Linked DNA regions of Homo sapiens: all the other regions are linked to region 3. The links come from fine-mapping of genetic effects on gene expression. A gene starts in region 3. Each other region holds a variant in brackets. All regions are shown on one strand. Distances are from middle to middle. Region 1 overlaps HECW2 (HECT, C2 and WW domain containing E3 ubiquitin protein ligase 2). Region 2 overlaps HECW2 (HECT, C2 and WW domain containing E3 ubiquitin protein ligase 2). Region 3 holds the start of STK17B (serine/threonine kinase 17b).

Evidence for each region. PIP is the estimated chance that this variant, and not a neighbour inherited with it, causes the effect.
Region 1: its variant is the best candidate, but not a certain one, in a credible set for the expression of STK17B in whole blood (TOPMed, PIP 0.74).
Region 2: its variant is the best candidate, but not a certain one, in a credible set for the expression of STK17B in tibial nerve (GTEx, PIP 0.89).

Annotation. Positions count from the first base shown.
Region 1 is chr2:196,241,447-196,252,478 of GRCh38, forward strand. It overlaps HECW2 (HECT, C2 and WW domain containing E3 ubiquitin protein ligase 2), which reads right to left. Exons shown (of 29, transcript NM_001348768.2): 20 at 638-758. Among named protein-coding and RNA genes, the nearest start is that of HECW2-AS1, 13 kb to the right of the region's middle. The variant A/G (reference allele first, on the strand shown) is at 5,161.
Region 2 is chr2:196,200,818-196,211,849 of GRCh38, forward strand. HECW2 (HECT, C2 and WW domain containing E3 ubiquitin protein ligase 2) reads right to left here. Exons shown (of 29, transcript NM_001348768.2): 29 at 1-571. The coding sequence ends at 460. Among named protein-coding and RNA genes, the nearest start is that of STK17B, 35 kb to the left of the region's middle. RefSeq lists an enhancer at 10,909-10,958. The variant G/T (reference allele first, on the strand shown) is at 5,172.
Region 3 is chr2:196,169,078-196,180,109 of GRCh38, forward strand. It overlaps STK17B (serine/threonine kinase 17b), which reads right to left and starts at 2,501. Exons shown (of 8, transcript NM_004226.4): 1 at 2,256-2,501. It overlaps LOC101927454 (a long non-coding RNA gene), which reads left to right and starts at 2,462. Exons shown (of 2, transcript XR_923737.2): 1 at 2,462-2,554; 2 at 2,828-3,771. RefSeq lists silencers at 1,827-2,046, 2,567-2,796 and an enhancer at 7,224-7,483.

The DNA of each region.
Region 1 (11,032 bases), 72 kb after region 3:
TGCTCCAGTGGAGACCGTCCCTCCTCTGTCCTCTCTCAGTGGCAGACTGATCTCCAGTGGGGACGTGGGACAGGGGTGAAGGCAGGGAGGAGAGAAAGAAGGGTAAGTAGGGAATGGAAACAATTCTAGGCCAAACAACATGATGATGTTTCAGTTTCCCCATTTGAAAGGAGGAGATGGATGAAGAAAGGCCGAAACAACATTCATGACATGTTCTGCTGTGAAGTTTGTTTCACAGAACTGAACAGAGCTGAGCACTATTCCTACACTCAGGTCAGTTCAGGAGACAGAAACTTGCAGTGGAGGACATTGGGATAGCTTTATAGCTAATGAATATACTATGCACCAACAAAGACATACTTTTCAGAGGAAAAAAATAAATCAGCCTTTTATTTTGCCTTTATTTTTGCATGAAAAGTGGCAGTGTCTTCACTATTTGTTTTAAAATGTTAAGCTTAATCATGTTTCATTCCAGGACTATGTTTTAGATGATCCTATAATTTACAAATTCCAAAATAATTATGCCGACTAAAATGAAGGCTAGTCATCCCAAATCACAATCAATTTCCTAGAGGCCCAACTGTGCCCTCTCCTTTCACCATCTATACATTATGTGGTTTGTGTCACTTTGACTTACTTTAACTTCCCTGGGCCTTGTCCATATCCTTTAGTCTCTAACTTCCTGTAAAAGTTCCTCAGTTTGGCTTCGAAATCCCGCTTGTAAGGGGCTGGAGCCCGGGCATTGGCACGCTGGGTACCTGCAGCAAACCACAAAGAGAGGACAATCTGGATTTGTGCCTCGTCCTTATGTTCATCACATCACCATGGACAAAAGCTATCACAATCAACAAGTCAAATGAGGCAACTGTCTTAACTTCTGCATTTTTGATTTCTGCAAGTTGAAGGATATAACAAACCTCAACCAAGGTCTTAAGTGACGTCCTCTTTGTGGCATTTTGGTTGAGAATAAAAATTCTGTTTGAATAGTTACAATGGTGCCCATGTGTTTCTCAAGTATGTTCCCCTTTTCAGTCGAAACTAATATGAGTCAAACAGAGTTACTCATGTCTAGTAGTAACTGTTAGGATGAAATGTCTTTGCTTGCTGCTGAAATGATATCATGGCAATTAGACAGGAAGTTGCAATGGAAAGTACATGGTATATAAGTAAGTGGCACCAAGAGTGAGGTTTTAATCATTCACTCTAAATTCCTCACCAAAAAACTCCTCATGAAACTTTTTTTTTTTTTTTTTTTTTTTTTGAGACGGAGTCTTACTCTGTCACCCAGCAGGCTGGAGTGCAGTGGTGCAATCTTGGCTCACTGCACCCTCCGCCTCCTGGGTTCAAGTGATTCTCCTGTTTCAGCCTCCCAAATAGCTGAGATTACAGGTGCCTGCCACCATGCCCAGCTAATTTTTGTATTTTTAGTAGAGACAGGGTTTTGCCATGTTGGCCAGGCTGGTCTGGAACTCCTGACCTCAGGTGATCCACCCACCTCAGCCTCCCAAATTGCTGGGATTACAGGTGTGAGCCACCGCACCTGGCCTACAAAACTTCTTTTAGATATGCACTATCACCAAGAATGATTTTAGACACATAATTACATAAATCTCATATTGCAGGGTAAAATCTTAATATAACACATAATTGCAAAAGGCACCTGTCTCACTTGCACAAAGTGCGCACTTGCACAAAGAATAAATAATATTAATATTTATTGGATTCTTTTTTTTTTTTTGAGACGGAGTTTCGCTCTTGTTGCCCAGGCTGGAGTGCAATGGCACAATCTCAGCTCACCGCAACCTCCATCTCCCGGGTTCAAGTGATTGTCCTGCCTCAGCCTACTGAGTAGCTGGGATTGCAGGCATGTGCCACCACGCCCGACTAATTTTGTATTTTTAGTAGGGTCATGGTTTCTCCATGTTGGTCAGGCTGGTCTTGAACTCCCGACCTCAGGTAATCCACCTGCCTTGGCCTCCCAAAGTGCTGGGATTACTGGTGTGAGCCACTGCGCCAGACCATTTATTGCATTCTTAACATGTGCCAAGTACTGAGAATATCTAGATTATATAAGCATATTTTATACGTTATTCAATGGTAATTATCACTAATAATATGTAAAAGTAACATTGTTTCTCTTTCCTTTTTTTTGACACGGAGTTTTGCTCTTGTTGCCCAGGCTGGAGTGCAATGGTGTGATCTCGGCTAACCCAACCTCTGTCTCCTGAGTTCAAGCGATTCTCCTGCCTCAGCCTCCCGAGTAGCTGGGACTACAGTCTTGCACCTCCACGCCCAGCTAATTTTGTATTTTTAGCAGGGACGTGGTTTCTCCATGTTGGTCAGGCTGGTCTCGAACTCCTGACCTCAGGTGATCCGCCCACCTCGGCCTTCCAAAGTGCTGGGATTACAGGCGTGAGCCACCATGCCCAGCCAATTGTTCCTCTTTCCATAGAAAAATCTGGTTTTGTGTCACTGGGTAACACAAGCAGCAGGTTGGGATAGAAAACTGATGATGAATATGGAAATCAGACACAGAGCCATGACAAAAACACTGGATATTTCCACTAAATATTTCCCAACCAATGAAAGAAACCAGAAAACAAAAGCTGGGAAGTCTTGTTCATTACATACCATGTAAGTTCATTAAAAATGTCTCTAACAAATGAGTGAACTAAATAGTTGTTATTCATTGGGAATACTATGTTAGGTTCACCAATGGATGTCCAAAATGAGTAAGGTGGGGTTGCTGGAGTGGGTTGGGGAAACAGAAATAAAACATCAAACAATTAGAGAATAATTAAGTCCTGAACTAGGTATACAGACTAGAAAGCAGAGGAAACAAAGCTATACCCCTGGGGCTATACCTAGTCCTATAGATCCCAGTTGCTTGCCCCATAATCTTTTTTGAATATTTTAAATTAATTGCCAACATTTACAAATTAAATTTCAAATTTAAAAATTCCAGATTTTTCTCTTGAAAATTATTTGGGAAATCTTGCAATGACTGGCTTGCATTTCCTTGGGGATCCAGCGGGCAGCTGCAGCTACTCTGTTAGACGAGGCATGAGCTCACCACTTTGCGGCAGCCACTCAATGACATGGCTGCCTGCCCCCCAAGCCCCGCAAGCATTTGTTAAGATCAGTGTTACACAAAAGTAATAGTAATGTTATAAAAAAGAAATGAGTATAAGTAGAGATCAAAGTGGAAAAGGCCTTAGGGAGGAAGCTTAATTGGAACCACACCTTGCAAAAGAAGGAGAATTTATATCCTAAAGTGGAACACAGCAGCAACAGCTGGCATGAGCACTGCATGTGTGTTCAGAAGACACCAAGAGAACCAAGCTAGCCTAGAGTGGAGGAGGAGTGCTGGGAGTAAATGGGAAATGAAATTGATCAGAAGGGTTGGAGCCAAATTATGACAAGAATTTTTAAAACCTAGCAGAGGAGTTTGGGCATGATGCAGTGAACAGTGCCTTTATAGGTTCTTGAGCAGAAGAATAACATACAAATGGTGTTTTATTTAAGAAATTATTTTCAGAGTGTGTTGAGTAAATTAAGGGTGGGCAAGAGGAAAGAGCCCCAGTTAGGAGTTGTTGCAGTAATTGAAGCCTGAGGGGATAAGGACTAGACTGGAGTGAGTGACTCAGAGAAACATCTACAATGTGAAATATGCACTGGGAAAAGAATAGATAAGCAAGAAAGAAGAATGGGAAGCATGATGATAATATAAAGTGTATTTAAACAATAACAACAGGTCTTACTTGTTAAGCGCCTGCTGTACATTACAGATGATGCACGTTACACAGGGGATCTTGAGAAATCCTCACAAGTCTACGAAGCGGGTATTACTAGGACCATCACACACCACTTTGCAACTAAAGAAAATGAAGGTGCAGTTTCCTGTCCAAGTCATATTCCAGTGACAGTAGATTTGGGATTTGAGCCAAGTCTATCTACCTGATGCTATGAAGAGTGTGGGAAGTGATGCAGGTGGACAAGGGCATGTGAAACTTTATACATATTGACTTGGATATGACAGCTAACAAAATGCCCTAGAGACTGAAAAATACAGGGCTGGAATTGGGGTGAGAGCTCAGGGCCACACGTGTGGATGAGCTGAGTTAGTGTGTTTATGGCACTTTATGCAGTGACTGTTGCATAAGAGATCCCACGTAAGTGTTAGCTGTTGTTATCTGCATAGAGGTGAATACTAAAGACAGGGAAATGAATTGAGATTTTACTAATGAATTTGTACAAAACTGGCTATTGACCAATAATCTGTCTGGAGATCTGTTTGTATAGCTGGGCAAAGAGCTGAGTTATGTCATAAAGCAAGTGAATAAACTTGACTTTAAAGATCTGGGAAGCAGAAGAGACTCCTAGGCAGGGGTTCTCAATCTTGACTGCACATTAGAATCACTTAGGAAGCTTTTAAAAATTCCAATGTTCAGGCCACACCCAAGATGCATTACAACAAAATGTGTAAAGACCCAGAATGTGGGGTGGGACCCAGGCATGAGTGTTAAATACAACTGTCCAGATGATTCCAATGTGTAATGTGTAGCTATGGCTGAGAACCACTATTCCCTTATAAGAAGGTCAAACATCACCAGTGAAACACATGGGCAGCATCCAGGGACTAACACAGGGCAAATGTTTCCTGTGTACCGAAAGGCATAATTTGCAACACGAAGGAACATTATCTCCATGAACACAAGGCTGCTCTCCTAGATGAATGAGGGATAGGACCGTGCAGTTCAAGTCCACTCAAGGGTGGCACAATCAGTGTCAGTGCTCCAGTCTGAGAAACTGCAGACTAGAAAACCCAGACAGGGCAGAACGCAGCTGTAATGAATCAACTTTCAAGAGCAAAATCATTGATAAGAGAGAGAAAAATGAAGAACAAGGAACTGAACGAAAATCTTTTAAGACACAAAAGAAACTTTTTTTTTTTCTTTAGACGGAGTCTCACTCTGTCGCCCAGGCTGGAGTGCAGTGGCACGATCTCGGGCACTGCAAGCTCCACCTCCCGGGTTCATGCCATTCTCCTGCCTCAGCCTCCTGAGTAGCTTGGACTACAGGCGTCTGCCACCACGCCCGGCTAATTATTTTTTTGTATTTTTTTAGTAGAGACGGGGTTTCACCATGTTAGCCAGGATG[A/G]TCTCGATCTCCTGACCTTGTGATCCACCCCCCTCAGCCTCCCAAAGTGGTGGGATTACAGGCATGAGCCACTGTGCCCTGCCAAGAAACATGTTTTTTTAAGAGCTGATTACTTTAAAAAACAGCACAGACACTAACTACTCCTATATAATTTGAGATGCTTAAAAGGACGTGGGAAATGCCATAATGCATTCCATCAATATCAATACAGACACAATAAAAATTAGCTCTGATTCTGTTTATACTCTAGGTAAAGGGATTTAATTATAAAAACTCTGAGACAGCAATTGTTAAATGCAAAAATTCTTTTGCTCATAGTTCCATCATGAAAGAAGTCATTTACACATTATTTCATTTTAAAATTATAGTAAATTGGCTGGGTACGGTGGCTCACGCCTGTAATCCCATCACTTTGGGAGGCTGAGGTCGGTGGATCATGAGGTCAGGAGATCGAGACCATCCTGGCCAACATGGTGAAACCCCGTCTCTACTAAAAACACAAAAATTAGCTGGGTGTGCTTGTAGTCCCAGCTACTTGGGGGGCTGAGGCAGGAGAATCACTTGAACCCAGGAGGCGGAGGTTGCAGCGAGCCGACATCGCACCACTGCACTCCAGCCTGGCAACAGAGTGAGGCTCTGTCTCAAAATAAATAAATAAATAAATAAAATTACAGTAAATTATGCTGTTGGCCTTTGTCAAATTCTTAATACAAGTGAGGTATAATTGCCAAGAAATTCCAGAGCAGGAATGATGTTACTTCCACTTTGGAAATACAAAATGTTCTTGGAAGATTGCGCTAATAAAATTGTGTGAGAACTACAAGTGAAGTTCTAGGTCATAATACTTTGTAGACAGAGGAATTTTATGGTCTTTACAGTCTTAAAGAAAATCAGGTACAAAAGATCAATGTTACATCAAATGAAGGGCTGACTTCATGGATAGTCAGCATTTTGCTAATACTGTGCAGGAAAAAATTTCAGTAACAGACACTAGGGAGTTTTTGCTTTGTCATTGCTAGGCAGGTCTAAAGAACTTCTATATTGTGTTACCCTATTTTCATATACTGTTACAAAATTGCATAATCATATACAAACTAAAGAATTCTATCTGACAAAATATTTCAGAAGACACTAGAAATAGCTTGGCATCCAACTCCCGGGCAGTCTCAGTCTTTTTTGATTCTGGGTGTGTGACCCAGAACCTGGACTGTTCTGATGACTAGCACTGGTTCTCCGTATTGGACAGGGGCTGGATCTTAGCCTGATCCAGCATGGCTCCATGCCTCTGTCCTGGGACAGCTCAGACGCTCATCTCTTTCCTGGTTCACTTTCAAAAAATCCCTATGACATTTAAAACAAATGCCCTGTGAGTGAATGAAAACAAAACATCAAGCACTACAATAATTTCTGGAAGGCTCCATCTTCTGGAACATAGCTCAACGCTGGAACTTAACAAAAAACACGTCCAAATCCCTGGCACAAAGCACAAGCACTGAAAACCTGGCATTTTTGCTTTATTCTCTGAGTAGTAAAAGGCCCTCGAGTCATTTCTTGGAGCTTGCTGATGTTCATGTACATACCATTTATTGAAAATAACTTAATGCTCTGACTTCTCAAACCTTGACAGAGATCTTGGCAGGGAAGTGATTTATTAAAGGGAAATGTAAAGGGTCTGCCAATAGCAGGCACCCTCTGATAGCTCTATGGGTGAGGACAAGGGAGACTAACAACACAAAAAGTTAAGTCTCTATACTATGAGAGAGACAGTGTCTGTGGCTTTCTTTTGGTCTCTGGGATCACAACTTCCCCATCCCTACCCACCCAGGGAGCATCCTTCATTTGTGCAATTTGGTTCCTAGATCATCTTTGTAGGGCTGAGTCAAGGGAAGGGATCAAACACCTTTTCTAAAAACAACTCTAAAGCTACTTCAGGGACTGTAGGAAAGGTGGGGAAAGGGAGAGGGACAGATGAGAGAGAGAGAGACAGACAGACACACACACACACACACACACACACACACACACAGAGAGAGACAGAGAGGAATAGAGAGGGAGGAAGGAAGAAAAGGAGAGAGAGAATGAGCAGAGAAGAGGAACTGTTTGTGAAAAGAGAAGATGACATAAACAGCTGGTAAAATGCTAAGACTTTGTGGTGGGAGAAAGAAAACGAAGATCATTAAGGGCACACAATGTGGTGGGAGAAATAATTCCCTCTCACAACCCATCCCCTCAAGACAATCTTTAGTAAAGACCCACAGGGCTCTTCTGTGCTCTCTGAGTGTTTTACTTCTGTTGAAGGTGACTTTCTGCTGGTGCTAGTTTCCAGGGAGTCCAGCTCTAGTCAAGTAACAAGAGCTCTGCATCATGATTCATAGGCACAATGATCCCCCCAAACCATGAAATATCCTCAATGTGCAGTGTATAGGAAAGTAAAGAGAAATATAATATATTTATGAAAGAGTTTCAGCAAATAGGGGGTCAAACAAATTCTCATACAGTTAAAATCATAGCTTTGGTTACCTGGAAAATCCACATAAGAGAGCACATCTCCAATAATATCAGATAAATTAGGTGTTATTGCATTTAATTTCCTAGAAATGTGCAGCTTAAATAAACTTCTGGGTCCCATATTTGGCATAATAAGCCACATGGTGTTTGGAAAGATCTTTTCCTTCTGGCATCACTGAGGTTGGGATTGGCATTATAATGGTCCTAGAAAAACAAACCTTCACATTCCAAAATTTTGACAAATTTTGGTGAGCACTCTAACAGCTGCAAAAAGCAGTGAGTCAAAGTTTCCAAAGCCCCTCTCTCTTCTGCACTTGAAAATACATGTCAACGTGCTTGGAATGAGGAAAAGGGGGAAAGTTTACCAGGTTCCTAGGAATTCTCAATGAAGATCATTAAAATTTATTACTGTCATAATTTTCAAGATATTATTCTCACACCACTAAAAGGGGTGAAATTATAGTCACAAGGAGGATCAGACCACTTAAAAAAATCTGTTTGAAATGTTGCTTTCACAAAACCTTCAGGAATCCTGGTAGAAGGAGAAGCTATTTTATTCAAAGGAACAGAAGATTCCTCCAGAGGGGAAATGAGGTTAGGTAGTCCTGCCCTGGTATCATGTGGAATTTGTTATAGTGACTTCCATTGATATCAGGCTGTACAACCCAGTTTCAAGATCAAACAAAGCCCACTGAAACAGAGTAGGCCAGAAATATGGAGATGATTCTTCCTGAAAATTAAAACCACCACAAACACTGCTAGCAATTTAGATATATTTGGGTTACACAGGTCTTTGGAAAATGTTTAACTCTAAATGTAAGTTTCTAGAATGGATTTTATTGTCACCAATGATTACTCATGTGCATTTGCGATGCTAAATGAGGAAGTGAACTCAGCCACATTTAGAGTGCTCATACAGTCTTGAAGAATGTGTGCAGTCTTCAAGTGCATGCCTTTAAAGAGCACGGAAGGGGCAGCATTTGGCAATTTACCTTTTCCTCAGGGAGGAGAGGCCACACAAAAGGCCTGGAAAAGGACAGCCTTGACTGGCACGAGCAACAATCCACATGGCTTCATGTCTTTAACCATAAAACACAGGTAAAGGGATGGTCCACTTTAAACCCCAGCATAGGCTCTTACTAAGATAAAGTCCACTCTGCATGATTAAATATCTAAGCAGACAGCTCTGCAAATCAGGGTTCGTATGTTCCAGTTGTTAATGGTTCAAATGTGAACAAACTACTTCTCAGAATCAAATTTCCAGAAAGAAAGAAAGAAAAAGCGACACATTAACCTTTATTGGCTACTTGTTATGTTCCAAGCACCAAGCAAAGTGTTCTCCAAAAATAATCGTGAGAGGTGAGGTAATTATTGTTATCTCTATTTTATAGAAAAAGAGATTCAGGCTCAGGGAAGGAGGTACCCTGCCTAAAGTCAGACAGTTGCTAAAAGAATGAAATTCCCAGTTGGGAATTTCATGAAGTTTTCCCCTAAACCTTTAAACTTACCTGTAGTGTCATACACTTCTTTCAGCCTGTGTCATCAAAATAGGTGTCCCTATTTTGTTCCAAAGTTGGCCTGTGTTTCTTCCTTCAGTGTCGTGCTGCCCATGAGCCTGCCTTATTCCACAAACCACTTTCCTTCCACTCACGTCCTGTGTCCTCTGCACATGTATGCTCAACTTCCCATCCTAAAATTCCTTCCCTCTCTCTTCTCCTAACTACTGTTCTATTTTGCTTTCTTTTTACCTCCAGATTTCGTGAAAAGAGCATTTGACTTCTGCTTCAGATCCTGTATCATTCTGTCACCAATCATGATCCGGTTTATAACCTATTACTTCACAGAACCTGCTTTGGCAAAGACCATTGATAATGTCATGATTTTCAAATCTAAATGAGGCCTCTTTTCAGATCTCATCCTTCTTGATGCCCTATCCCCCTTTTGAGACAGGGTCTCACTCTGTTGCCCAGGCTGGAGTGCAGTGGCATGATCATGGCTCCCTGCAGGCTTGACCTTCTGAGCCCAAGTAACCCTCCCACCTCAGCCCCCGTGAGTAGCTGGGACTTCCTGAGCCCTTTGAGCATGTGGCTCTATTGACCACTCCTCTGTGAAACCCGGCTCCCCTGAAAAGACTTTCCTAACTCTATTCAAAATCTGTTGGCTCTCTTTCTTTCACTTGCTTCTCTGTCTCAGCTCATCCCTTAAATATTGAGGTTTCTCATGACATCATCCTCTATTTCCTCTCCTTTTCAATGACTTTCTCCCCAGTTGCTTTAGTCTATACTCTAGGTTCCAGTTGCCACCAGTACACTGAACTCCTTGCTTTCAACCTCTCCTGTGCGCCATGGCTGCCATTTCCAGCTGTCTTTGGGAATCTCCCATTGATGGCCCAAAGATTTCTCAATAAAACTTGTCCAACACCAAACTCACTCAATCTTCCAATTTGAGTCTAACCATTTCCCATTCTTGGCAGAGGGTGCTACCATCTGCCTGGTAGCCTAGGTAGTGAGGGCCTTTGAATCTTCCTTGACTCTTCCCTACCTCTACTCAAAGTCCTGATGTCTCTGCATCCTACATATCCCTTCAATTTGTTCCCTGGTCCCCATCTCCACTGCCTAGTCCAGTCTTTCATCATGTTACTCTGGCTAATGCAATGGCCTCTCTGAGAAACTGTCTCTAGTCTCTCATTTTCTAATTTATCCTCCCAATTGCCACCAGACTGATCTTTGAAAAGCAGGATATTATTGGTATTCCTCTGCTTATACATTTTCAGTGGCTTCACATGGACAATAGAATAGGGCTGGCTGGGCGTGGCAACTCACACCTGTAATACCAGCACTTTGGGAGGCCGAGGCAGGCAGATCATTTGAAGTTAGGAGTTTGAGACCAGCCTGGCCAACATGATGAAACCCAGTCTCTACTAAAAATACAAAAATTTGCTGGGCATGGTGGCATGTATCTGTTATCCTAGCTACTGGGGAGGCTGAGGCAGGAGAATTACTTGAACCTGGGAGATCACGCCACTGCACTCCAGCCTGGGCGAAGAAGTGTGACTCCGATTCAAAATAATAATAATAATAATAATAATAATAATAATAATAAGGCTTCAATGACCAACCAGCCCTAGCCTACCTTTCCAACCTGAGCTTTGAGAACTTCCCTTCCCTTGTATCTATTAACTTACTTGTATCTATTTCCTACACTACTTTCATGCTTCTGTGGCTTAGCTTATGCTACCTGATATGGTTTTTTTGGATGTTTGTTCCCTCTAAATCTCATGTTTAAATATAATCCCCAGTGTCAGAGGTAGGGCCTTGTGGGGGGTGTTTGGATCATAAGTGCAGATCCCTCATGAATGGTTTCG
Region 2 (11,032 bases), 32 kb after region 3:
AGGGCTTAAATGAATGTACTTTCAGGAAATATATTTACTTTTATTATATTATTTAACTTGCTCTAATTTGGAGATTGGGCCAAATGCTGCCAGTTTGGCTTGAACCACGTTCAAGGGTAAGTTTCAAGATTCTCCTGAGTCCCTAAAAATTACCGTGGAGCTGATCATGTATGGGTTCATCTTTGTCTTGGAACATAACAAATGGAAAAAGTTTGGCAGTCAAGAACTGTTGATTGAAAGACGGTTGGGTTGTTCCCTGGGCATCAAGCTCACCCAAATCCTTCCAAGAGGACTCATCTCCAGTCCCCAAATGTGACAGAGCACTTGTTCCTGGAAAACAACAGCACATAGCTTTATCCTAAAGGAAGCATCCTCTTGAAACTTCCAATGTTCAATCATTCTTCTAGAAGGCAGCTTCTGAACCTGCCTGTCCACAGAGATGGGCATTCAGCTTCCAGGTCACTCAAGTCCAAAAGTACTGGTTTCTTCAACTGCTGTCAACAGTTTTTCATAAAGCATGGAAAAGGATGGGTAGGGAGGCAGATCCAGACGGTTAAAACATGTATGCGCTCTGAAAACACAAGAAACAGCACATAGTTTAGAACAGGCCGAGTGAAATGAAAATGTGTGTGGTGTGTGTGTGTGTGTGTGTCTGTGTGTGTATGACTGTCTTTCACATTCAAATTTATTTGTTGCCAATTTTCACACTCCTTTTGAAAAATCTTTGAAAACATTTTGACCTTAAAAATTCAGAACTGAATTTCTCTAAGGAAAAGAGGATATTTAAAAAAATATTTTATTTACATTTCACCACCATTTAAAAGCTATATTACATATAAATGACCATTTATTGAGTGGTCTAAGGATTACAAAGACAAGTTTGGTTTTTGTTTCTCTTTTGATGCTAGATTTTTTTTTTAATACACGGACATAAGGCCTTGCAAAGTAGTTCATTTTGAGTTGGCATATGCCTGGGTGTCTCTTCGATACTCTGTAGTTATGCATTTTTTCATTTTCTTGGACAGGGAAGAGGAGCCAGTGTCTCTGAGGGCCTGCCTCATGGCTTAGAGTCTTGGGAAATTCCCTGGCTGGACTTTTCTAAGTCAGTAGGCCATTGTTACTTCTTTGAATCCTGTGCTAAAATTTGCTTTCTCCCAATTCACAATAACAAAATAAGCAATTTAAATCATTACATTAAGTATTCTTTTTTAGAAATACTTCTTTTGCCAAGATAGGAAAAAAATATGTTTTCCTGTTATTTGCATCTGAATCACAATAAAAAATAGACAGTCTCCAAATAGTACATCTTATCAGGAAGCAAATCTGCACTTTTGACATGAAATAGGAAACATTCTATTCTGAATGTACAACAGCTTGTTTGGGGGACCTACATAACTTTGACTTAAAAAAAATACTCCTGAATAAGAAATTTTAGGAACTATGATTATTAACAAGCTATTTCTACAAAGTCACATGTCTATACTTTTACTCTGATAAATCCCTTTTCCTTATGAAATAAATATAATTAATATTCCTGGATGCAGTGTAATGTAGTGGGAAGACCAGAGATTTGCAGTTGGACATATTTGGGTTTGGATTCTAGCTCTATCAACAAGTGTGTGATTTGGAGTGAGTTATTAAAACTCTGAGCCCGTATTTCTCACCTTTAAAAGGGTGGTTATATAACTTGTCTGAGAAGGATGTGAGGATTAAGTGAAATAACAGAAACATGCTTAATAGAATGACTGGCTCATAGTGTTTGACCAATTAATAATAGAGGTATTGTTAGCTACATTTCATTACTATCAACAAGATTTGACTCTAATTGCCTTCAGTGAATTGCCACAAATAGTAATGACCCATGAGAATGATGAGATAATAAAGGGATAATAAAGCAGGTGTGTGGCCACATGGCTTATTAAAAACAGGAATGTGAACAGGATCTGTTATATTGTAAGAATACAGATAGAGTATTCCTTATCCAAAATGCTTGGCACCAGAAGTGCTTTGGATTTCAGATTTCTTTGGAATTTGGAATATTTGCATATATATAATGAGATATCTTGGGGAATGGGACCCAAGTCTAAACATGAAATTCATTTACGTTTCACATGCACCTTGTATACACAGACTGAAGGTAATTTTATACCATATTTACATAATTTGGTTCATGAAACAAAGTTTTGACCGCGTTTTTGACTGCACCCTGTCATATGAGGTCAGTTGTGAAATTTTCTACTTGTGGCATCATGTTGGCACTCAAAAAGTTTTGGATTTTGGAGCATTTTAGATTTAAAATTTTTTGACTAGGGATACTCCAACTGTATGAGTTTTAGGGTATAGAGATAGTACCGACTCACCCACTCCTAGTACTGTAAACTCTGGGATATATTGGTGGAAATCATCTAATGAATCTTTGCAGGCAAACCCTTTTTTGATACAATAAGCATTTCAGAATTGCATTTGATATCCTTAGACTGGAACGCAAATTGAGCCTCAAGAAAAGGTTTTACTTATTTAAAAATTCAACTTGTATACTACACTAGAGTCCTAGCAGTGGTTTATAATCTATCATCTGTGAAACACTGGAATAAAAATATTAAATAAAGATTTATCTCTGTTCCAGGGGTAGGGGAGGAAGAAGCAGAAAAGTAGAATACGTTTTGAATATAATTCTATGCCAAACTGTGTGTGTCAGACAAATAACATTTATTATCCTATTAGACTAACAGATGACACCACAATACTATTTTACAATTTTCATTTCTTTGGTTACCAATAAGGTTGAGCATCTTTCCCCCATGTCCTCTTGCTTTTTACATTTCCTGTTTTGTGATCCATATGTTCATCTCTCTTGCCCGATTAACTTTTCAGTATTTTTATTGTGATAAAATATACATAATATAACATTTACCATTTTAACTATATTTAAGTGCACAGTACCATGGCATTAGTACACCTACGTTATTTTGCAACCATCATCACTATCCATCTCCAGAACTTCTGCATCTCGCAAAACTGAAATCTGTATCCATTAAATAGTAACTCCCATTTCCTCTCCCCCTAGCCCCTGGAAACCACCATTCTACTTTGTGTCTCTATGAATTTCACTACCCTATGTACTTCATATAAGTGGAATCTTAAAATATTTGTCTTTTGTGATTGGCTTATTTCACTTAGCATATTTTAAGGTTGATGTTGTAGCATGGGTCAGAATTTCCTTCCTTTTTAAGGCTGAATAATGTTCCATTGTATGTATATACCACATTTTCTTTATTCATTCATCCATTAATGAACAGGAGTTTTTTTCCTACCGTTTGGCTATTGTAAATAATGCTCCTATGAACATGAGTGTACAATTATCTGTTTAAGTCCTCCTTTTCAATTTTTTGGGGGATATACACAGAAGTGCAACATCATATTGCATTTTTCATAGTGGCTGCAACATTTTACATTTCCATCAACAGTGCACAAGGGTTCCAATTTCTCTACATCCTCACCAACACTTATTTCTTGTTTTTTGTTTGTTTGTTTGTTTGTTTTATAATAGCTATTGTAATGGGTATGAAGTCCATTCACCTTTTAAAGCCTTAGGATTTCTTATTAAAATCAAGAGAGACTCTCACTGTTGTTGAATTTGAAGAAGGAAGCTACTATGAATTCTATAGCTGCAAGGAATGAATGCTGCCAACAACCCAAGGGAACTTGGAAGCAGATTCTTCCCTAGTTGGTCCTCCAAATGAGAATGCAGCCCCACCCACAGCTTGATTTCAGCCTTGTGAGACCATGAGCAGAAGACCCAGCTAAGCTGTGCCTGGATGCCTGCTCCATGAAAACAGTGAGATCATAAATGTGTGTTGTTTTACACTGCTAAATTTGTGGTAATTTGTTTTGCATCAGTAGAACCAGTAACAGGTCTCAAGGTAGTGAAACAGTTCAAGAAAAGGTGGCAAATGTGATGTTAAGTGTGATACAGTAGAATCATCTATCCAGGACAGGTGGTGAAACAAAGCTAGGGGTTGGCAACAGTTCTTTCATTCTCCCAGGTTTCTGAGTAGAGAAACAGGAACTTTGAATGTCTCTTTGCCATTTCTGTAGTATCTTTGCAGGTACTCTAGAAGCTTATCCAGTAAATCCACAAGCCTAAATACTCTTTTCAGTTCTCAACACAAAGGGAAGGCAAAGGGAAGGACTAGACAACCTTTTTTGTTCCTCTGCAGTCGTAAGACATAATCAGCATTACTAATCCATAATCTAAGGCTATTGCTGCTTCATAAATTACATCTGGTTGCATAATATATGGTTACCATAACACAACTTTCCTTCTAATAAACTAAACAGCTCCTCTGGAAAATATTTCGCGATGATGGGGAAAGCATATATTGTGGAGGGGGAAACTGTGTGGAAAGATTAAATGGTTTTCCCAAGGTCAAAGCTGAGTCAGTGGCCAAATCAAGAAAAGGACCTCAGTTCTGGGTCTCCTAGGGAAAGTCCAACATTAAACTGAAAGCGGGGAGATTAATGCTCATGGCTTCATTCTTTTACTTTTGGAAGCCTGAGTATTAATTTTATCCTACCTCTGACTACGAACTATTATTCCTCAACATCCTACTAGATTATCCACATTTTGAGGACAAGGATTGGCAAAATAAAGCTTCAGATATTTTTTAAATGAATAATTCAATCACAATATGCAGTAGCTCTGGGGAAAATGGCTGAGATTGAGTCAATCCAGAAAACCCTGAAAAATACCAGGGGATTTTTAGGTGATCATACCATCTAGCTCAATCTCAGGCTTAATAGAAGAAGGCAAATACTCAAAAGGATACTTTAGAGTGTATCAAAATCACTCCAGGAGCTTGTTTTACAATGGAGATTTTTGGTTGCACCCCTTGTGATTGTAATTCAGAAGGTTTGGGGTGGGCCTGGGGGAATATGCATTTTAATAAATATGCCAAGTGAGTCTGATGCAGGTGGTCTCCACTATTGGAGAGGCATCAAGTGGATTAGCAACATGATACCTACATTGGCTATTTGCACCAGTGTTTTATGTGCTTGCAGAAATTTCAAAACTCCTTATAAACAAGACAGCATTGCTAATAAGGAAATTGAGGAATAGTGTGGTTAAATAAATTGCCCAATATTTACCATCAACTTGCTCTATGAGCCAA[G/T]GCCAGGAAAAAAACAAAAAAAATGGCAAGCAACACATAATCCTTGGAGGCTTTTCACACCCCCACTCCCACCCCATTCCATGTCCTAAGAAAACTTTAGCAGAAAATAACAGGAGGGCCCTGGACTGTGTTGATGTTGGCAGCAAAAGTGCATCCAGCTATTCAGTCTCAATAAAAGAACATTTTTCAAATCTTTCAAAGCCAGTCACACTAAAGCTATAATGGGTTTACCTCATTTTAATCTATTTAGCCAGAACCACTCAAGGAAAGCAGGTCTGAACCCATCTTTGGGAAATCATGCTGGCATCAATATTAAGAAGATTTAAAAATTCTCCAGACATCTGGTCTGACTTAATAGATCTCTTGGTGCTTTCTGGATTCTTCAAAAATGTTAATCAGGAGGTCACATGCTTACCCTCCCTTTTTCCCTACAGATAGACAAGTCAATTAGATAAATCCAGTGAGCCAAAAGTATCAGTTACATTTCCATTTCCATAGATTGGTTTGTTGATTAATTTCTCTCTCTGTATGTGAATGTACTTAATTTTCCAATTTGCATTATATTTCATTTATTCCTTCACTCGCTGAATAAGTACTTACTAAGCATATACTCCATGCCAGGGATTCAGCTGTCCTCTGAGAGATGAGGATGAAAAGTCTGGTTTCTGTCCTCAAGGAGTTTACACTGTGGCAGCAAAATATACAGGCAAAAAGACCCTCTAAAGTTTGTGTATCCTGTGCTCTGGGGCAAGCAGGAACTGAAATCCAGCCTTCCTTTGGCTCTGCTTGCCAAATTGTGAGCCCTAGCTGCAGGCTGCATTTCTCCAAAAGGCTAGGAGACACCTTTGTTTCATTAGTCCCAAAGATGGGCTATTAGTGGCCCTGCATACAAACAGTTAATAATACTATGAGTTACAAGTTTGCTCAGCAGAGCCAAGGAAGGTTCATAGAGGACACTATCTGTGCCAAGGCTTGAAAGATTTGTAGGTGTGCAGGTTTTCTCTGAATCAACAACAAGGAGAAGGATGTTCCCAGCAGATGGAACATGACATTGCATCATCAGGAAACCTGAGAGGGGCAAGCGCCTAAGGGACAGGAGGCAAGGTTGGACCTGAGGCCAGATGGGGAGGCAGGGACACATCAGGAAGCCAGGAGTGTTCTTGCAAAAACCTTTTCCAGTTATTTCATGGATGAAAGAAAGAAAAGTGGGTTGGCAGAGGTATCTTTAAATAAGGCAGGGAATATAGGAAATGGGTAGAGGGACAGATGATGAATTCAAGGGCGTGAAATCAGCATGAGAAATCCAAAGTTACCAATTAAATAGAGTGATCGAATTCCATTAAAGGAATCCAGTTATAGTTTTGTTAGCCTGGGTAGCTTTATTAACACAACTAATGGTAAAACTTGTTAGAATTTTTAAAATATTCATAATTTATCTAATATCCTCATGAATACCTTCTTAGGCCATGAGGTTTAGAGCAGAAATTCCTATTAAGAGTAGGGCACAAATATGTGTGTAACTTATGGCAGCAGAGCACAATGCCCTGACCTTCACCAGGTGTTCGGTAAAGGTGAATTCATGGAAAGAAATTCTATGGTGCTTGCTATTCCAACTACTCATTGGTCATGTTCCATTTTGGGACCAATGATGTTGGTTATCTGTTCATGTAAATATCCATTGCTTCTCTCCCTGTGTTTTAAGGTCAACGTATATCTCCCACAAGGTTCGGCACTTAGTAAAGCCATGAGGAGTATCTATAGACGGGTGAGGGGAATTAATCTATTCACTAATTAATGTCTTATTCCAAAGTCTCATTAGGTCACTTTGGTTAAGGTGCACTTGGATCTGTAAATACAAAGTGGAATATTCCCATAGGGGGGAATTCCTGTATCTGGGGTAACTAGCAGAAGAAACTCTTCAAACTATGCATTCTGAGCAGGTACCTTCTTCACTTGTGAATGCCTCTGGGGAGAGATAAAGAGGGTACATACTTTTCAAATGTAAGAATTTAAACCAAACAGAACAAAGTCCAGTAAGGACAGTTCCAGGAATGGAAACCCCTGTAAGTCCAAACAAAATACAAACACGCTGGGTGAATATGGCACATTTCTCACACACCTAAAGACTATAAAGTATCCGGCCAGCCCTGAAGGCTAGATATTAGGAAGAATAGTAAGAATGGCTAAATTTATTGAATGATGTTTTAGGCCTTATTCTAAGCACTTTGCATGTTATCTCATTTAATCTTCAAAACAACTTTGTAATATAAATGCTAATTTCTATCCCAACTTTTCAGATATGGATACAGAGATATGAAAGTCTGGATTATGATTTTGGAATTTCTTGTCTGGAGTGGTCCAAAGTTATCCCTAAAGATTTCAAATTCACTAAAAACAATATTTATGGAGTACATGTGCTAAGCACTGGGCTCACTGCTAGGAGCAAAGCCATGTTTAATTCAGATAAGGTACTTGTTCTCACAGGATTATACTCCAGAGGAGGAGACAGATAATCAACAAGTAAACCAATAACTGAACATGATGACTGAATTGGGTCAAGCCTAGTGAAGGAAGTAAGGGGTGAAAGAGTGACAGGTGCACTAAGGACAGAAGCCTGGTGGGCCTTTCTCAGGAGATCACCTCTAACCCGAGTCTTGGGGACAAGAAAGAGCCAGGCATGAAGGACCAGCAGATAAGTGTTATAGGCAGCAATTCCCTGAGCCTTGAAGCATAATTGAGTTTGGCATATTTGAGGAATACACAGAAGGAGGCTGGTAGGTGTCATGGGTTGGGGGAGAGGGTACATGTTGAGGTTGCAGGAGGAGGCAGACCAGGGCCCCACAGGAAGTCCTTGGGAAGGAGTCTGGATTTTATTCTAAGCCACCAGAGGGTGTAGGCAAGGGAGGGAGGTGACCTTGAGATGTTTGCAGATCCCAGTGGTTGTTGAGTGCAGAATGAATGAATGGTGGGATGCAGGAGAAGCAGGGGATTTAGCCAGCAGTCTACTGCAGTAGTCCAGGTGAGGGGGGATGGTGTCATGGACTAGGCTGGTGGAAAGAAATGAGCCCAAACTGGTTTTTGCTCTTGAGGCCAAGGAAAAGTGGGTAAGCATTCTTTAACTGTTGCAATGTCTGTCACTCACAAATAGACACTTTAAAATCTGACTTGTGAAATAGCTCTCAAGGACCTTTAGTAGATTTGACTTGGACTATCCTGTCCTCTGTTGTCAGCAGCAACAATGCTGATGGAATGCAAGTGGAATGATTATCTCATTCCATTAAAGTCACAAATTCTTTCAATAGCTTGACGTTTTACATTAATTACAGAAGAGTCCCTTTTTTTAATACAATCTGTTTTTATGATAAATTTACCCACCTCCCAAAGTAAAGACCAATCCAAAAGGTATATGACATTTAAGAATCTTTAATATGGTGATGTGATGGGTTAACTCTGGCATGTTTTTGTTAGTACATGCAGATTCAATGGCAGAATAAAGTGAAAATTTAAAATACAGTTATATAGAACTGAGTGAGAGGGCAGAGGGGAAAGGAGTTGAAGAGAGTCTTGGACCTGAGGTTCAACTACAGAGCAGACCACTGTATGAGAATCTCCTGTCAATTCTCTCCCACACGAAAAGCCACATCAGCTCATCAGCAGGCGGTAGGGAATTAGGAAGACCAACGAGGGACACCTCAGGGCAAATATAGAAAGGAGATGGCCCCAAAGGGTCCTTCTAGTACTCATCTCTTGTTCTGATGGTTTTTCTTTCTTTCTTTCTTTTTTTTTTTTTTTTGAGACGGAGTCTGGCTCTGTCGCCCAGGCTGGAGCGCAGTGGTGCGATCTCGGCTCACTGCAAGCTCCGCCTCCCGGGCTCCCGCCATTCTCCTGCCTCTGCCTCCCGAGTAGATGGGGCTACAGGCGCCCACCACCACGCCCGGCCAACTTTTTGTATTTTTAGTAGAGACGGGGTTTCACCATGTTAGCCAGGATGGTCTCCATCTCCTGACCTCGTGATCTGCCCACCTTGGCCTCCCAAAGTGCTGGGATTACAGGCGTGAGCCACTGTGCCCAGCCTGGTTTTTCTTTTAATTGAGGAAAGTGACATTGTATTTCAGGACTTGGTTATTTTCCGGTATACTGGCTGATAATTCACTTTGACAGTAGACAATGCTCCCTATAATGGAGGAGGGAAAACTGAATTATTGATAACATTACAGAGCAATATTTAATGACATGGAAAGATGTTCCATGTGATAAACGGAATGTTGTTTTAAAATGTGTGTGTGTGTGTATGTGTGTGTCTGTGTGCCTGTGTGTACCTGAAGAAATGAGTGAAATCACATACTCTAACATGTTAACAGAGCTTATCTTAGTAATTGACTTTTTTTTCCTTCAGAAATGGTATCTCTCTATGTTGCTCAGGTTTGACTCAAACTCCCATGCTCAAGCCTTAGCCTCCCAAGTACCTGGGACTCCAAGCATGCACCACCATGACCAGCTAGTAGTGGACATTGGGTGGACATTGGATTGATACATATGTAGGTATTTTAATATATATTTAATATATACATATATTTCTTAGCAATTTTTTGTAAAATTTTCTTTTTATAAATTAGAATAAAAAGCAGATTTTTTTTTCTTTTGAGATGGAGTCTCACTCTGTCACCCAGGCTGGAGTGCAGTGGCATGATCTTGGCTCACTGCAACCTCCACCTCCTGGGTTCAAGTGATTCTTCTGCCTCAGCCTCCCGAGTAGCTGGGATTACAGGTGCACACCACCATGCCTGGCTAATTTTTGTATTTTTTTTTTTTTAAGTAGAGATGGGGGTTTCACCATATTGGCCAGGGTGGTCTCAAACTCCTGACCTCAAGTGATCTGCCTGCCTTGGACTCCCAAAGTGCTGGGATTTCAGGTGTGAGCCACTGCACTCTGCCAAAAAGCAGAATTTTAAAAACAAAAAGTTGTTATGTTTTTAAAAAATAATTTTATCTTTTAAAGTTCTATTCCATTAGATTAACTGTCTCCATAAGACATCTATTTCATAATTAACTCTTACAATTTATTTCTTAATTTCAGTTAGCATTTCATTCATAATAATCTCCAGACACAGCCATTTTCAAAAATTAACGCTTTTCCCTTTGGCAATAACCAACACACCCCCATGACGATTGCAGCTCTCAGGTCCTCCGTCCCATCACCCAACTTGGCAAGAACCTGGGGGATGAACACAGAAACTCACACCATGGTGGGAGACAGGACTGCTCTGCAGTTTTCAGGCTGGCATCTTAGCAGCGCATTTTTTGGACTGTTTGAGAGCAATTGCCACAAAGTGAATGTACTCTCTTTTCATAAAGTCCATCAGAGCACCAGGGGTATGAAGTCTTCCACAGAAATGCAAAATACAGAGCTAACCACCGACCGCGAAGCAGAGGAAGTGCAGTCATGTGCTCAGGCTGTAGGTCTCCATGGAGACACCCTTCTGTCTACATCCTTATTTATCATCTGGGTCTCTAGTCACTTCATAACCACAAGAGGAAAAAAGAGCCATGGATTCAACTTGCACTGGCTGCAGAGACAACCATATATACTTTTATATACTCCTTGACTCATACTGTGAGCAGCGCTATCCACTGCTACCGCAAAGTGAGACTAGGAAATCTGAGAAAAGAATGAGACTCACATTTGCCTGCTTGAAAATTGAAAGGCCCTCCATCATCCTTGTCTAGAAAGACTAAGATTCTCTCCCTCATTGCTCCGGTTGCCAGGACTGCCCTCATCCTTTACAGCCCCTCCAACCCTCCAGGGCAGAAACTCCCATGCCCGACACAAGACCATGCCAGACTTCTTAGAGGATTCTTTT
Region 3 (11,032 bases):
TTTTTTTTTTTTTTTTTGAGACGGAGTCTCCCTCTGTTGCCCAGGCTGGAGTGCAGTGGCGTGATCTCGGCTCACTGCAACCTCGGCCTTCCGGGTCAAGCAACTCTTCTGCCTCAGCCTCCCGAGTAGCTGGGACTACAGGCGCGCGCCACAATGCCCGGCTAATTTTTGTATTTTTAGTAGACACGGGGTTTCACCATATTGGTCTCGAACGCCTGACCTTATGATCCGCCCGCCTCGGCCTCCCAAAGTGCTGGGATTACAGGCTTGAGCCACTGCGCCCGGCCAGAATACTATTCTTAACTGCCAATCTTACATACAGAAAATGTGAATTACAATATACTATGCATGCAATTTTAAGGCAATTTAACGATTAAGTGAAAGTGTTATTAACTGAATTCCTTGACTTCTTGTGTCTCTAAAATTAAAGCAAAAATATTTTCATAAGGAAATTCTCCCTTATAATTATCAAAGAGCTTTAAAACATGTTAAAATGTTCACTTAACAAAAGTAAAACAGAGCAAGCTTAAAAATAAAATTATCTGATTAGAAACGTCAGCCATAAAAATGCTTGTATCTTCTTCAAATTTGTTACTCATATGCTAACACAGCGATTAGTCAAACCTCCAACTTCCTAAAAACGCATTCTATCTTAACCAAATCGTAATTCACTAATCAATGATCCCAAGAGAAACCGCAACCATTCTATTCACACACAAAAAAGGATGGTCTTCAATTACAGAAATTCTACTTTTAAAAAGTCTTGCCATGTAAGCAAATATATTTCACCTCAATTTTGGATCCCTACTTTAGAAAAAAAAAAAGATCTAAAATGTACAATATGTATCTCAAAAATAAAACATCTATTAATACCTCCAATTATTAAGATACTAGAAAAAGTTTAATTGAGCATCTGCTCAGAGGAGGAGGATCCGAGGCAGATGAGTTTAAAACTTTTGCACCGCTTCTATGGACCAGTTTTCTTAAAAAATACACAATCCTAGGGGTACACGGTCTAATATTTATAAAATAAGCACTTGTTGAAAATTACTTCCGAACAGTTCACCATAAAACTAAAAAACAGTGTTATCAATGAGAAAGTAGGTTTATTTTCCTTTAATAAAATTGTGCTCCTGGGTTCAAAATGCCAGGTTACATACGCTGCCACTCATTTCTACAGAGCTATGCTGTCTCCGCGCAGACATTCTCATAGACTTGAAAACGTAAAGTGGCCACACCACGTCAAACGTCCCTGGCAAGGTTCTGCTTATCATTAGCACCACAGATGTAAACATTACGTCGACAAAACAATCGGTGAATGTGATACACAGTCCTCATGTGTTTAAATATTAGTGAAATCTGATAAGTATTACGATTTTAAAAACGTATTTTCTTAATTCCAATTTCCAAATTGATGTCAGAGTGCCTCTAGTCCAGACAGAAACTAATGCCAGCTACCAGCTGCTATAAAGCCTCTTTCAACTTTGTCTCTACTTCTCCCTCGGAGGAAATTCAAATGAAACGCTTTTCCCTACAATAAAACAAAGAGCCTGGGTAAATGTCAAAAATCGTTGGCATCCAGTAGTGGTATAGTTTGAGGATGAGTCGTGCACACTAAGTGGGTCACAAGGCATCAAAGCAAAAATCAGATCGCTGAAAATCACGGAAACAGCTGTAGCCCGTCTTGATCTCTCGCTGGTTTTAAAACACTGTTCCCAAGCAGTAACTGAAAACGTCCCACAAGATGAACACGAACTTTCTCTAGACGAAAGGCAGCTGGGAGCAGGACGCGTCCACGAGTCCCGATGGGAACGCGCCCACGCCGCAGCTGGGACTCGGGAGAGGCTAGGGGGACCGCGTGGCCTTGCTGTGGAAGGGACCCGCGCGGGCCCGCCGCGAAGGGGGCCCTGCCTGGCGCGACCTGGGGAGAGCCGGGGCCGGCCGGGTGGAGGGCGCACGGGGACACACGGACACGCACAGACACAGACACGCGCCCCGGGCTGAGGAGGGTGGTGGGAGGACCGCCGGCCGCCCCCCGCGCGGAGCCCCAGGGAACCCGGACTCCAGCCGCAAAGCGGAGAGGCGCCAGCAGCAATCAGCCACCTCAGGGGCGGCGGAGTCCAAGCCCCTCTCAGCCGGACCGTACCGCCTAAACCCTCCTCGGGTCCTCCTTCCTCACGTATGAGGTCTCTGTACCGAGGCGGCTGGTTCCATCGCAGCCCCGAGCCAACCCGCCAATCCCGCAGGACACTAACCGCTCCGGCCGCCGCAGGTTCTCCCGGGACTGCCCCCTCCAGGGGGCCGCTGTCCCGCCCCACGCCGGGGGCCGCCACAGGACGAGTTCTCTAGCTCCAGCCGGGCGAGGCGCCAGGGAGCTCCGAACGTGGCAGGATCCACTTTTACTTTTCCAGACAAGGGCCGACGGTTGTGACCTGGCTTCTCGTGAAGTGACTCCTGGCGACAGCAGCGGAGAGGACTACCGAAGCTTGCAGTCGCGGTTTGAAAACTGCAGCCGCGTCTGGGGCATCGCCGTTCGCCAGATCCCTCCCCCTAGGTCGGGAGAGCCAATCGGAACGGGTGCGGAGGGTGGGTCTGTCACGTGACGGGAGGGGCGGGGCACCGGCCGGGGGCGCGTGTGCGGGGCGGGGCCCGGCGGTGAGAGGGTGCGGCGCCTGGCTGGCCCGAGGCGGGGCGGGGAGGCGCGGCGGCGTGGCGGCGCAGGTGGGGCGCACTCGGGCTGCCGCGAGGGAGGGGCGGAGGGGGCGGCGCTGCAGAGGGGGCGCGCGGGGCTGGAACTACTGCTCTGTGTACTCCTTCCCACCTTCAGAGAGGTCAGTTCGAGAGGTGTGAATATCCGGAGACCGGGGAGAAGGAAGCCGCAAAATTCGTCCCAGCTGCCTGCGACTAGTTACCAAACTTCAGTGCCTACCAAAGACCTATTTTCTGACTCTTCTTGAGAGTCTTCCTTAGGACCGGAACGTACCCTGTAAGTGGAGAACCCAGTTTGCTACAACTTGGCAGAGGTTCCTCGGAGTGTCAACATCAGTTGGGGATTTATGGAACCTAGACCCCACTGCTAACGTCCGCTGTCGCGAATGGTGTCCCTTCTGAGGCACTGACTGAAGGCAGTGTAGGGAGGGTCCCAATAGGCTGAATAGCCGATTTTGCATTTATAGTGCTAAGGAAAAAGATGAAAGCCCTCAGCAACCTACTCAAGATCTGTTATCCTTTGAAGACAGTGGAAATTTTCAAAGTTCTGTGCAAGACACAAATGTTTTACATAGATATATAATCCTAGTTTATATGTATAGGATACACACATACTCATACATATATGGGATTAGTTATGTAATCTAGGATTGCTTTCAGAGGACATTTACGATAATTGCAGAAAACCCTTCCGTGGGAAAGGATACTGGGAGTGGAGTCGTCCTCTTGCTTTCAAAAGACTTAATGTTCAGTTAGCATATAAAGGACAGGTTTTCTTGTTCTATCCCAGTAAGCCAAGCAAATTCCTGTGAAGCTAGCTGTTTCCCTTTCCTACTGCATTTTCCCCAAGATAAAGGTATAGAATGCATCACAGCCCTTTTATGAAGTCTGTTTGTTGTTACTTAGGTTAACTCCTCCTCCCAGGTTAATAATGTCTTGCCCCTAAACCTTGTCAAATGGAGAATATTGCTTCCATCTATCTAATTTCTTGTTGCTAACAATTGGGCTGACTAGAGAAGCCTAAAGTTAGGATGAAAATAAAATGCCACACACTGGAATTAACTTTTCTGGGGTATAAGAATCCGTAAGCAATGAGACTGTTCCCATCTTTTCTTTCATGAGCATAGGTGTTGCATTCCAGAGGTCTCAGCACCAGTACCAAAACTAGTAACCTCTTGGGGGTCACAGGATTACATCATTATGGTGGTTTTGGGGTTGTGTGTTTAACTTTGGACCTCCTTAATTTCAACATTTCATCAATTGCCAGCTTTTAGCAATCTTCTCACACTCACCCCATACTCCCCGTCACTAATCCAGTCCCAGATCACTTCACACCTAGACACAGACTTTTCTCTCTCTGGCACCACTGTAAGCCAGTCCTCTTGGTCACAATACCTCTGCTGTAACCAGCCAGCCTCCTAGGGATATTGTCATGTCTTGCATTTTCCTGCTTCTGCCTTAGCTCCAGCTTATCACCATCCTCCTCATCCATACCTGTTCATCAGTTTCTGACTTTAAGAAGGTTACCCTCTTCAGGAATCAGAACTCTGCTGATTCCTACTTTCTGTTCCCAGCCTGATCACCTCTGCCTTATGTTCTTTGGTGCAGGGCTGATAGTTTGTGTTTCTTTTATGACCCTAAATAGATTGTTAACCCTTGTGCCTGATGTCAGATTTGTTAACTAGGACTTACCACACTATCCCAAGGACATTCAACTACACTTACTTGGTCTCAGGCACTGTGGTTCAAGTAACAAGGAATTCCTGGTGCTGAGGAGGAGGCAGTACATCTGTGGCCTTGCAGGAAAATTCAGAAGTCAATACATTCCTCCATCCACCTCATTTACCTAAACTCATTCATCACCGTGTCAAAGATATATGTTCCTGCTCTCATTCCCTTGAGTAGGAAATCTCCAGGTGACCTGATGGTCATTCTGTGGTCATTGCTTCTGACCACACAGTTCATTAAGTTGACCATCCTTGAATGACACATTCCGACCAGGGATGGCGGTTGTTATGGGCTCAGTTGTGTTCTTTTCCAGTTCATACGTTGAAATTCTAACCCTCAGGAACTCAGAGTATGACCGTATGTGGAGATAGGGCCTTTAAAGAGGTAATTAAGGTAAAATGAGATAATATGAGTGGCCCCTGATCCAAGATGACTGGTGTCCTGATAAGAAGAAATTAGGACACATACAACACTGACTAAGGGACCACCCTGTGAGGACATAACAAGAAGGTGGCCATTTGCAAAGCAAGCAGAGAGGTTTCAGAAGAAACAAGACCTGCTGATATCTTGATCAACAGCCTCTAGCCTCCAGAACTGTCTGTTGTTTAAGCTGTCCGCTCTGTGGTATTTGTTATGGCAGTCCAAGCAAACAAATACAGTGGTCCTCCTGGATCACTCCAGGTTAGTAATCACACACTGACTGGGAGCGATGATCGTTCCCAGTCACTGCTTACCACATGTGGCCAGGGAAGGTGATCCTCTCCGGTAATGGCACGACACTCACCATATTCTGTCCAGGGAAGGGACCTTCCCCAGTCACATCAAGTCAGTCACCGCATACTGACCACATAATGATCAAGGAAAGTGATTCTCACCGATTCCATGTTTACTCCCTGTAGATGCAGAAAAGGAGGGTTTTGCACAGAGCAGAAGGCCTCAAACTCAAAACTCTTGCCACTGACACACCCTCCTTCTGAAGAATTCATGTGGAAAAGGCAAAACAAGCTCTACTACCTGTCTAGAACTGAATATACCAGAAACCTGTGGCTAGGCTAAAGGTAGCCAGACGCAGGCAAGGCCAACAGCCTCTGAAGGGGCGTGGCTCAACCCCCCACCCAACAGGGGTGCTCACTGAATGGAGACAGGCTCCTCCAAACAGATCCCCTCTCTGGAGGTAGGAATAGTGAGTGTACTCAGATGGAGATGTCGCAGTGCATTTACTCATGGTGCCTACAGCACATTGCAATTTTGAAAGCACTGAGAACCAGAGAGACTCTAAGAGACCTCACATCCCCTGACTCTCTTGAAACACTATTAGCAAAGCTAATTGGGGCTAGTTTTGTCTGATGAGAGTAATAACTCAGACTGGTACAAGTGTCTTCCTTAAAGGGTGACACAGCTTTCCTCTCCAAAACATCCATGATCAACTAGGGCCAATATGCCAATCCAACCACTCACTGCAGTTTATAGAGTATAACCTGTCCTGTAAAAGCTGTCCAAAAGAAATGCCACGCACATTGGCAAATGTTCTACTAGTCATATTTTAAAAAGTAAACACAGATAAAATTAATTTTAACAATTTATTTTATTTAACCCAATATTTCTAAAACATTGTCATTTCAACATGTAATCAACAAAAATTATTGAGACATTTTACTTCCTTTTTTAATATTGTCTTAAATCTAGTATTTTATACTTACAGCATGTCCCAATTCAGATGCCAAATTTTCATCGGAAACACTTGATCTGTATTTAGATTTCACAAAATTTACTGTTGCAAAAAGCAGATTCACATTCCTAAGTTGTTTTGAACAAACTAAAGTTTTTCACGCCAGGTGTGGTGGCTCATATCTGTAATCCTAGCACTTTGGGAGGCCAAGGCGGGCAGATGATTTGAGATCAGGAGTTCAAGACCAGCCTGGCCAACATGGTGAAACCCCGTCTCTACTAAAAATACAAAAATTAGCCAGGCATGGTGGCAGGTTCCTGTGATCCCAGCAACTCAGTAGGTTGAGGCAGGAGAATCACTTGAACGCAGGAGGCAGAGGTTGCAGTTAGCCGAGATTGTGTACCACTGCACTCCAGCTTGGGCGACAAAGCGAGACTCTGTCTCAAAAATAAATAAAGTTTTTCAATAACTAAATACAGTATCAGTTTCTTAATATAAATTTAATGACAATGAAATAAAATAGAAAATTTTGTCATGTTAGCCACATCCCAAGTGTTTCATGGCCACATGTGGCTACTAAGTTAGGCAGTGTAGGTCTGAAGGGCTAGAAACGTGCCTTCTAATTGTGTCTAAATTTCCAGTGCTAGAGACAATCAGAGCAGTCTGGAGCTAGAAAAATTCTTGCAGTTCAGTAACCCAACTCCCTTGTTTTAGAAGGGAAGAAACCTACAGTGAGAGAAGTTGAGGGACTTGCAAAAGATCACACACCTAAATTCGGTGGTACATATCTGAACAATAATTTAGGTCTCCTGACTCTTAATCCTAAGATATTATTTAAGCCTCTTCACATCAGACATACTTCAGAATAAAGTAATTTTTAAATTTATCTGAATCATCACTCCGATGATACAGGCAAGAGAAAGCAAACCTGTATCCCAACTGCATTCTCATAACCTGATAAGAGCACACCCTACAATATTTAAGGCACCCTCCTTCCACTCTGTCTTAGGGTCCATGTGGTTTCATCTGTCAGCTCTCTTACCTCAATGCATCACTGCTTCCTCTCCTTGGAGCCACCTGGCCGAACATCGCTGCCGCCCGCCCACAGAGCATCCGGCCACATTTTTCTGTCTGCAGTTTTCCTCTCCCAGGTGTCTACCACACGTTATTTAAGGTTGTGCTTCAGAGAATCCTTTATATTTGCAAACCAAAATATTCAGTAGAAACTACAGTAAAGTTGTAGAAGAGCTGCTATGCTCCAGCCACAAACACACCAGGCTCTAAAGTTCTACCTCGTGAGAAGCTGTGAGAGAGAAAGAGAAGATATATGTGTGGTTAAGTGTGTGACATCAGGCAGCCCTGCCTTCAAGTCCCAGTTCTGCCCATTCCTTGTTGTGTGATTTTGGGCGATCCTCAGTTTTCTCATCTGTGAAATGGGGATAATAATAATAGCTACCTCCATGAGATTGAAATGGGATAATGCATACTAAGAACAGTGCCTAACAAGAATAAACCCTTGGTTCTGTTCCTACAAGCTATTATTATTTACCAGTGCTTTGCCAGCTCCCCATGTGCACTACTGCGCCCTGTGACTAGCAAGATGCTCAAGACATTGTGGGTTCTATATAAATATTTGTCAAATGGCTTTATAAGATACTTTCGATTTTCCTCACATCTTATGGTTGATGCTAGTAGGGATCATTGGGAGAAAAATGTCATTGGAAAGGAAAGGGGAGAGGGAGGTGACTGCTTTTCCTTTCAGTATCTATCTGGTGGAGACACCCAAGTTCGGAATGAAGCTCTAAGGGTCAACAAATGGTGGAGTCCAGGGGGCCGTGTGAGATAAAGAAATTAGTCACTAGTGTTTAAAGGAAGTAGATATCAAGTGGTGCAAAGAAATAAATACAGGGTATAAATATAGGGTGCTGTCTATTTGATTTGAGTAGATAACGCCTACTAGCTCTCCCTAATAAATCTCTTCCTTTTTCACTTTGCTAAGAAACTTCCTCTGCCAACTGCATATACCATGAATGACAACCTGCTATCACATTCTCCAGGGTACATGGCAGGTACCCTTCCAGAAACCCTTCACGTAGTGAGTCTTCTTACAGCAGGCAGTAGCAGATATAGATAAGGCAGAGCCAACTTTTAATCCCCAGCAACTCCCTCATTAGGAGTGATCTTTGTGTCAACTGGTGTAAGGTGATAGCATGAACATTGAGAAGGCCAATCTACTCTGAAAGTTGAGCCATTTTGTGGCATAAAAGCATTAGTAATGTGGGAAATGGTACTATTCCTGATTATCACAGCATTCCTGACATTGAGAATATTCAAAGATTCTTGAATCTTTTTAGTAGTTGGCCTTTCCTTTAGATTTATAGAGCAGCATTTCATGGCTTCACTTTTACCGAAGAATCAGTAAGTTCAGAGCTGTTCAGAAACCTTTAAAAGGTCACAGATTATGAGAGAATGGTTCTGTAATTTACCAGCTGTGAGATCTTGACCAGGTTAGAAAATCTCTGTGCCTCTATTTTTCATCTGTAAAATGGAGATAATATACTTGCCTCATAGTGTACATGGCAACAACAGTTCATAAATAATGAAACTGGCACTGTTCTAAATGTGTTGCTTATGTTAATTCATCTAATGCTCACATCCTCCTATGAGTTACAGTGCTATATTTTCCTCCTTTAAAGATAAGAAAACTAGCCAGGCACGGTGGCTCACACCTGTAATCCCAGCACTTTGGGAGGCCAAGGCAGGTAGATCATGAGGTCAGGAGATTGAGACCATTCTGGCTAACATGGTGAAACCCCATCTCTACTAAAATTACAAAAAAAAAAAAAAATTAGCTGGGCGTGGTGGTGGCTTCTGTAGTCCCAGCTACTCGGGAGGCTGAGCCAGGAGAATGGCGTGAACCGGGGAGGCAGAGCTTGCAGTGAGCCGAGATCACACCACTGCACTCCAGCCTGGGCAACAGAGTGAGACTCTATCTCAAAAAAAAAAAACAAAAACCAGAAAACTAAGGGACGTGGAAGTTATATACTTGCTCGCAGTCATTCAAGTCCATCCTCTACTACACAGACTTTTTTTTTTTTTTTTTGAGACAGGTTCTCACTCTGTCAACGAGGCTGGAGTGCAGTGGCACAATCTCAGCTCACTGCAACCCCTGCCCCCCAGGCTCAAGTGATTCTCGTGCCTCAGCCTCCTGAGTAGCTGGGACTACAGGCGTGCATTCCACACCCAGTTTTTGTTTTTTTTTTTTTTTTTTAGTAGTGACAGGGTTTCGCCATTTGCCCAGGCTGATCTCAAACTCCTGAGCTCAGGCAACCCCCCTTCCCCCAGCCTCCCAAAGTGTCAGGATTACAGGCGTGAGCCACCACACTCAGCCTACACAGACTTTTACTGTGTGGATATTTAATAACTAGCTACTAACAAAAGAGCACACCTTCTTGGGTGTTTTATTCATCTAGTTCCTGGAGTCCTTGTTCTTTTCAGCCTTTTGTTTCTTCTCATATCTACCATTCCAAAATTGCTTTATTGTTAAAATAACTTTTCAAGTATATAAAAAATGCAAAGGGAGAGGGCTCAGAGTTAGAGACATCTGGTCGAAACTCCTGTTTAGCTTAATATAGATACAGATGTTTACATATAGAAATATTTATAGGTTATGTGTATATACATGGGTTGACATACACATGTATAGCTCCTTGCTCTGTTAGCTGAGGGTGCCTAAAAAGTAATGACACCTCAGAAACAACAGCATGCTTAGCACTGAGGTCTTAGTCTCTAATATCATTCTCCAAGAAAAGGAATCAAAGCTCCTTGGAGAAATGGCTGCTTCTGTGACTGAGGATGGAAATATACAGATGGGCCTGAAGTATCTTGTAGTCCAGAAAGAAGGAAGTGCAAGCGAACACCACCATGCAATTATGGGGGCATTCAAAGAGAAGGGAACCAGGAGCCAACTACAAGAGCTCACAATGGCCAAAGCTAGGACAATTTGAGCAACACAAGAAATAAAGCAGTAGTAGACTATAACCCAAAGTATAAAATAAATGTCTATGAATTCATACTGACATAAATAAATGGTTGAAAGAATAGACAAATCTTCCATACAGAAGAAATATGAGCAATTTATGCAGATACTCCACCCTCAAGTCGGTGGAGCATAACTCCCCACTCCTTAAGTGTGGGCTGCCCATAGTGACTTTCTTCCAAAGACTGAAATATAGGAAGAGATGGGGAGAAAGCACCTTTAGGGTGGAGAAACCTGACGAAACCTACCTCAAGCCAGATGATCAAGGTTAAGGTCAGTAGTCATAAGTCATAAGTCATGATGTTATGTATCCTTAATATAACATGATAAGTATGATACTTTGCCTGTGTAGTCTTCCTCCCAAAAACCCACAATCCCAGTGCAACCATCAGAAAATCATTAGGCAAATCCCAGTTGAGGAACATTCTATAAAATACCTGACCTATACTCCTCAAAACTGTCAAGGCCATCCAAAACAAGGGAAGTCTGAGAAATAATTACAGCCAAGAGAGACCTGAGGAGATGTGACGACTAAGTGTAGTGTGGTATGCTGGGTGGGAACCTGGAATAGAAAAATGATGCTAGGCAAAAACTAAGGAAATCTTTATTTAATAATAATGTATTAATATTGGTTTATCAGTTGTGACAAATGCACCCTTGCTAATGTAAGATCCTATAATAAAAAGGGAAATTGGTTGGGTATGAATCTAAAACTGCTCTAAAATAAAAGGCTTTGTTTAGAAAAATGAATGAGTCTGCCATTGCTTTAAATATTCAAATTTAGAGAATGTAGAACTAATAAAATAATCAAAATATAGCCCTTCTATTATTTTTGCAGTCTATTAAAAACACCATTGTACCAGTAATTTGATGCAGGTTCAATCCAA